Homo sapiens: one gene and its partner. The protein of the gene in region 1 purifies or fractionates together with the protein of each later gene. This does not show direct contact. Each region holds a gene or a part of one and is shown on either strand. Other genes may lie near its edges. The genes, in order: SYBU and ABAT.

Region 1 (3,822 bases):
TAATTATTGCCTCAACTAAGCAAAGAGGAATGCACGGCATGCTGCTAACCATGTCAGGTGACTGATGTATGTGCCTGACACACTCACCTAGGTCATCGGCTTTTCTAACAGTGGCTAGGGTCATGGTACAGTAACAAACACAATTCACTACTTACAGAAAAGGGGGAGAAAAATGGATAGAGGCTACATTCAATGGGCCAAACCCAGAACACAAACCAACAATGTGGGCTTTATCACTTCTTGTGTTAAAAACAAGAAACATGGGGGAGAAAAGACAGGTTGACTTTATGCCAAAACGCTGGTTTAAACAAACAAACAAACAAACAAAAAACTTTTTTTTTAAAAGGGGACAGGAAAGGAGGTGTTTTGTTTCTATTAACTTCCTATTAACTGTACTTCCTTACGTATTTTTAAAATAAAGCATTAATTAATATTTATTAATAATGTACAATGTTCTACTTGCTGTGCACATAAAATAGGGCCTGACCTCTAATACTGTATAAACTTAACTGTCTCCAACTAAGGTCATAGCGACCAAGACTGAGTACAAACTGTGAGGAATACTGTTTGAAGACTAGAATGATGTCCAAGCACAAAAACACTCATGTGCTGATGAAATGCACAAAACACATGCAGATCTTCAAAGAAATTTCGCTAAGAAGAAGCGATTAAAAAAAACAAAGCTCTTTGGGGACACACCCCAAATGAATTGCAAAAGGTCACACACAACTTCTTCCCTCTGAAATGAGGCAGAGACAACATACAAATTAGCATATAGAATATCAAGTCATTAAATGTTCCTTGCCAAAGCTCCCATGGGAAAGCAAGAGGGAGGCAGTGGAGTGCGGAGGGAAAACAGAAAGTGGGTAAAAATGGACAGATCACTTTGGAAATAGTTCTATTCTTTTCATTTCACAGGCCGGTAAAATTATAAGAAAAACTTGAGGGTGGAGTAGAGAAAACATCAACATTGAGTTGACATTTGTTTTGCTGAAGTATAGCTACCATCCACTATCATGAATTTTTGTTTCATTACAAATGATAGAAAAGCCAGATTCTCAAAATAAAGTATAATTCTTTGTATTAAATAAATGTTTATAAATGTTTATGAAGCTCATTACATTATCTTTTTTAAAAAAGTAAAAATTTTAGAACATATGACGCTTTTCATAATTAATGCTTTTGATATAGATTTGAGGAAAGAGTCTCCAGTTTGCAGTTCTGAAAATGTAATTTTCAAATTAAATTTCATTGCATTTGAGGTGACACCTTCCTCTATAATTTCATTACCAGATTGTAAGAATTCCCTTAACTAGGCATGGCCCCTTTTACATGAGTGAATGTGATGATTTATAAAGAAGAGAAGCTAATACAGGAGGATTACTGGAAGGTTGCGAAGCTATGATGACAATAGATCCCTTTAAATTATTTTAGCTTTGTTCTAGTAAAGGATGGTATTTTTTAATATTTGTATGCACCTTGTTCTCTGACTTAACTGCCGTGATTAAACAACGAACACACCTTCTGGCCTCAGTGTTGGAGTGGCTGGATTAAAACGAGCGATTTCCCCCTGCTGGTTGGACATGTCTTACATTCTCTATCTCACTGCCTCCAGCGTTAACACTCCCTGTAGTACCAAACCCATTTATTTTCCACCCACCAACCGGCCTCCTAAAGCATCATTAACATGCCCCCAAAGGCCTTGCTGCTGTCAATTTTAGCCTACACAGCACTCAAAAGCCTTTGTGGGGTTTATCAGAGTTCTGTAGGAAAGGAAGAGAAAGGCATTAGACTCAAACCTTGGGGAACTGACAGCACAGGAAGATGAAGAGAGATGAGGGAGAGGCCCAGGAATGGAGGAAATCCTATCTGCAGGCAGGGTGCAAGGCTCAAGATTGAAAGGTTGTTCAGAGACACCCATAATTATATGCTTCTGCCACTCAATTTTCATCTAGTTAATAGCAAAAAGATCAATATCTACTTTCGATTTTCATGTACAGCATTATAGCCTTAGCCAGAGACAGGTCTCCTAGGAAGGAGGATGATTCAGGAAGTGGGTCCGGGGAAGAATGATTCATAACCAAAATCAATAATCATATTGGTTTGCCTTCATATATTCTAAAATATATTTGGGGTTTTCCTTTTTTTTGTTGTTGTTTTGAACAACTTTTTCTTTTTTTCTGATAACACTACTCACCCTGAAATCCCTCACAGAGGAATTGATTACAGGGAGAGAATACCAGGAATAAATGTGGAACTGAGTTATGTACACAAAGCTCTGTCAGTTTGAAATGACGTGCCCAGAGTTCATCCACACTCACCAGGGTGAGCTCTGGGCTCCAAAACAGAGTTAAAGTAAACAGCATTACATTCTGCAAATATGACTCTAGATTCTAGGAATACTAACTGTGATAGCTTCTCAGTTATCCTTTTGTTTTCTTCTTGGGGGAATAGTAGGCAAAGCAGCAGTGGGTTTCCATCTTAAACTAGATTCATGTGATTCAAATATAAAGAAATAAGTTTTAAAACATAATATTTTGATAGGGTTTTTTTTTTCAGAATCAAGCAGACAATTTGATTAGCAAATTGTTAGCAAAAAATTAGTTAGCAAAAAAAAAAAAAAAAAAAGTAGGCAGTGCAGAATTTCCAACATACAACTTATGCAGAGGACAGAATAACTTTGTGGAAGTATGTAATAAATCCAAAGCTGCATTTATAAAATCCTTGAAAAATGTAGCTGTGAGCCCTAAATGCAGTGGAATGTTAGGTCCTGCTAAATTAGAGCATTAATCATAGCATCCTGATTCATGTGTTTCTTCTCATACATGTGTTAATCTTCAAGTTCCATGTTCCCTAAATAAGTTCTAAAACATTATCCACTGTGAAACATTCTTCACTAGTCATAAGACAGTCACTCCTTTAAATTTTACCCAAATTCCTAATACTTCTCAAGTAACTCCTTCTAAGTCATGTGCTTCAATGGGAATAAAAAGCTCTGTCAAATGATAATGGTGGCACCTTCAGGAACTATCAAGAGATTTGTGCCCTTACCAAACATGCTCACAACTTTAAGGAAACTTTCTTAATCACGTGCCCAAACAGACATCCATAGTTCCTTGTATTAAGAACCATCATTTATTAAGCACTTCTGTAAGCCAGGTACCGTGTAAGGTGAACATTTAGGTACTGGTCTCATTCAACTTCACAGCCACTCTACAAGGCAAGTATTATAATCTCATTTTATGGATGTAACAACTAAGGCTTAAGGAGGTTAAGCAACTTGCTGAAGGTCACACAGTATGTAAGTGGTGAAAGGGCCAGGGATTCCAGCCCTTCAGGCTTGACAGATCACAAAGCCTGGGCTCTTCCCTACTAAACCATAAGGCCAGGCCAGCCTTAGGCTATAACTCTCCTTGATCTTGACCTCATTTATTAGGAATTGCTTTATCTTTGGGGAATTTTATAATTAGAGGTACACAGGCTTCTAGAAGTTGCTAGTATAAAATTCAATCCAATATTTTTTCTACATTTAACAAAGGAATGCATCTTTAAAAACAGTCATAGAATGGCAGTAATTAAAAGATCAGGAATGGACAGATGCTGGAGAGGATGTGGAGAAATAGGAACGTTTTTACACTGTTGGTGGGAGTGTAAATTAGTTCAACCATTGTGGAAGACAGTGTGGCGATTCCTCAAGGATCTAGAACCAGAAATACCATTTGACCTAGCAATCCCATTACTGGGTATGTATCCAAAGAATTATAAATCATTCCACTATAAAGACACATGGACACGTATGTTTATTGCAGCACTGTTCACAAT
Region 2 (3,822 bases), on another chromosome or scaffold:
CACAACAGGTGCCACCACACCTGGCTAATTTTTTAAAAAGCATTTTTTTGTTGTTGTTGAGATGGAGTCTCCCTATGTAGCCCAGGCTGGTTTTGAACTCCTAGGATCAAGCGATTCTCCCACCTCGGCCTCCCAAAGTGCTGGGATTACAAGTGTGAACTGCCTCGCCTGGCCCAGAGTTCTTTATATAAATAAATGTTTCTTTGTGTCACTATTTCTTCATCCACTTAAATATTTGCTCAGCTCCTGTAGGTCACACACTATCTTGTGATCCTGGGAATACCACCAGTTCCTGCCTATCAGGAACTCACAGTCTACTGCAAAGTTTCTCAGCCTCTACACTTTTTTTTTTTTTTTTGAGAGGGAGTCTTGCTCTGTTGCCCAGGCTGGAGTGCAGTGGCATGATCATGTTTACCTGGAACCTATGAATAGGACCTAATTTGGAAATAGAGACTTTGCAGAAATAGTTAGGTTGAAATGAGGTCTTTCTGCATTAGAGTGGCCCCTAATCCAATGACTGCTATCTTTTTTTTTTTTTTTTTTGAGATGGAGTCTTGCTCTGTTGCCCAGGCTGGGGTGCAGTGGTGCAATCTCAGCTCACTGCAACTTCTGCCTCCCGGGTTCAAGCGATTCTCCTGCCTCAGCATCCTGAGTAGCTGGGATTACAGGCACCCGCCACCACACTCAGCTAATTTTTGTATTTTTAGTGGAGACAGGGTTTCACCATGTTGGCCAGGCTGGTCTTGAACTTGTGACCTCAGGTGATCCACCCGCCTCGGCCTCCCAAAGTGCTGGGATTACAGGCTGAGCCACCTCTCCTGGCCCACCTCTATACTACTGACGTGGAAGCGAGGCTGTCCTGTGCCGGATGTTTAGCAGCATTCTTGGCCTCCACCCACCAGACGCTGGCAACATACCTTCCTCCACGTTGTGACAGCCAGAAATGTCTCCAGGCATTATGAAGTGTCCCCTGGGGAACAAGATTGCCCCTGGTTGAGAATCACCGGTTAGAGGCTAAGACAGCCGTGTATATCTATAATTTCAATCAGATTGCTTGTGCCTAACAGGATACACACACACACACACACACACACACACACACACACACACAGAGGAGGCATTCAGGATGTATTTGTTGGATGTTGGATGGCTGGGGGTGTAGATGGATGCATGGATGGACAGACACAACCCCTTTGTTGGTTGGCTAGATTGATGGATACATGTGTGAATGAATGGATGAATAAATGAATCCAATTTACAAATTCCACTGTGGGAAAACAGAACGCTATTCTTCCAACCAGAGTAGCCTGCCCCTTTATCTCTGTCTAGCACAGTGTTTTTCAAACTTTAGCATCAGAATCCCCTCAAGAGCTTGTTAAAACACAGATTGATGCCCCTGCCCACCAGAATTATGATTTAGTAGAATCACCGGCGGCCAGAATGCTCCCAACTCTATTTCCATGTTCTCTAGGAATCCTGGACCAGCCCCCGACCCCTGCCAACCTTGTCCTTGTCCAGAGGTCCCGTAATCTTCACTGCCAGCATCTCCCATTTAGGTGCTAACATCTATTATCTTGGATATCAGCAACTTGCCAGCACTCTGTCCCTGGGCTGCACTGAGAATTCCTTCAAAGGTGGGACCCACTGTATTCTAGTACCTTACTACTGAAAGTGTGGTCCAGCGGCCAGCAGCATTGCATCTTCTAGGAGCTAGCTAGAAATGCAGAATCTTGGGCCCCACCCAGAACTACAGAATGTGAATCTGCGTTTTAACAATATCCCCTGGGGTGATTTGTGTGCACTTTTAAGTTTGAGAAGCGTATTTTAGACAGATCTGTAAACCCCACACTCAGAGCTAAGCTAGGGATAGCTTTGCTGATAAGTTACATTGACAGCATCTGTTACCATGTAATTGGTGCCTGAGCTGAAGCATCTTTCAGGCATTACTGGCCATTTGTACCTTTGCCTGACGTTATCTCTTGAAATGTCTACACTGGCCTCGCTTTACCCGTGGGAAACCAGAAGCCCAGAGGAGCAGTGCCTTGCCCAAGGTCACACGATGACCATGAAAGCAGAGTGGAGATCACTCTCCACTCCTTAAAGGGAATGGGATCAAGAGGATTGAAATGCTGTATCCACTGAGCAGGGCGGCACATGCCTGTAGTCCCAGCTACTCGGGAGGCTGAGGCAAGAGGATTGCTTGAACCCAGGAGTTCTGGGCCGTACTGTACTATACCAGTCAGGTGTCTGCATTAGTTCGGCATCAATATGGTGACCTCCTGGGAGTGGAGGACCACCAGCTTGCCTAAGAAGGGGTGAACCAGCCCAGGTCAGAAACAGAGCAGGTCAAAACTCCTGTGCTGATCGGTAGTGGAATTATGCCTGTAAATAGCTACTGCACTCCAGCCTGGGCAACATAGTGGAACCCTGTTTCTAAAAAAAAAAAAGAGAGAGAGAGAGAGAGAAAAGAACTGAAATGCTGCTATGATACTGAAAATATGGGGTGTAGGGGGAGCATTCTGAAGCTACTTAGGTCTGTCCTCTGAAACTGGAGAAAGGGGAGATGACTTGAAAGTGATGCAAGAACAAGAACTTAAGTTGTATTCTTTTGTTCATCCAACCAGTGTTTATTGAGTACTTACTAGACTCCAGGCATGGTTGTCTGGTATCTATAGTATTGAACAAGAAAAGCCAGGCCTCCCTTTTGATGGCTTATCTGGAGTGGACAGACGTAGCCATCTGGCATTCATTCGTCAATGAGTGTGTTCATTTATTGCATGATTTCCATGTGCTGTGTACAGTAGTAGGGGTGTGTGCGTGTCTATGTGTCTGTGTGTGTGAGAGAGACAGAGAGAGAGAGAGAGATGGAGGGAGAGACAAAGACTCAGCTACTACACCAGCGCCTCTTCTAGACTAGCCATGCGGAAACAGGCCCCAAAACAAGGACCACACAGTGAGGAGAGTGCCGAAGGTGTGTGGGAGTGAATACAGGTTCAAGCTCAAAGTAAAAAGAGGTTACCACTCCCTGTTCCTGGGGATTCTAGGGAAGAAATTTCAGGAGGAAAAGGCAGAAAAGAAGAGAAAGAGACTCTGTGCAGGGAGAGCATCATGAACAGGCCCAGAGAGTTCATAGGAAGCCGTTCCAAGAAAATCGCAGGGGAAAAAGGAAGGATAGACAGCGTATGGTGGCTCGCACCTGCAATCCCAGCGCTTTGAGAGGCCGAGGTGGGTGGATCACTTGAACCCAGGAGTTCAAGACCAGCCTGGCCAACATGGCCAAACCCCGCCTCTACAAAAAATACTAAAATTAGCCGGGCATGGTGATGCATGCTTGTAGTCCCAACTACTCAGGAAGCTGAGGCAGGAAGATTACTTGAGCCCAGGAGTTTGAGACCAGCCTGGGCAACATAGCAAGACCCCTCAAGACCCCTTCTCTACAAAAAATTTTAAAAATTAGCCAGGTGTGGTAATGTGCACCTGTAGTCCCAGCTACTCAGGAGGCTGAGGCAGGAGGGTCGCTTGAGTCAAGGAGGCCGAGCCAGGCTGCACTGAGCCATAATCATGCCACTGCACTCCAGCGTGGACAACAGAGTGAGATCCTGTCTCAAAAAAAAAAAAAAAAAGGTGGAGGGTAAAATCATGAATCTCATACAGATACAAAAACACTCAATGATTTTATTAGGCTCATTCAATGAGGGAACCAGGCAGACATTAGAACCAGTTCAAAGGAAAAGTCAAATAAAGCACAAATATGTAAAGAGTAAAGGGAGGTCTAAATAGATTCAAAACAGAGGCAAACATGGTTGGACAAGGCAGAATTTG

The links.
Region 2: the proteins of SYBU (region 1) and ABAT purify together in Homo sapiens (affinity purification with mass spectrometry; one large-scale study listed by BioGRID and IntAct). This does not show direct contact.

The regions. Positions count from the first base shown.
Region 1 is NC_000008.11:109,638,211-109,642,032, forward strand, and holds part of SYBU (syntabulin), read right to left. Parts: intron 1-3,822. UniProt on the Homo sapiens protein: Part of a kinesin motor-adapter complex that is critical for the anterograde axonal transport of active zone components and contributes to activity-dependent presynaptic assembly during neuronal development.
Region 2 is NC_000016.10:8,681,117-8,684,938, forward strand, and holds part of ABAT (4-aminobutyrate aminotransferase, mitochondrial isoform 1 precursor), read left to right. Parts: intron 1-2,142; exon of another isoform or gene 2,143-2,435; intron 2,436-3,822. UniProt on the Homo sapiens protein: Catalyzes the conversion of gamma-aminobutyrate and L-beta-aminoisobutyrate to succinate semialdehyde and methylmalonate semialdehyde, respectively. Can also convert delta-aminovalerate and beta-alanine.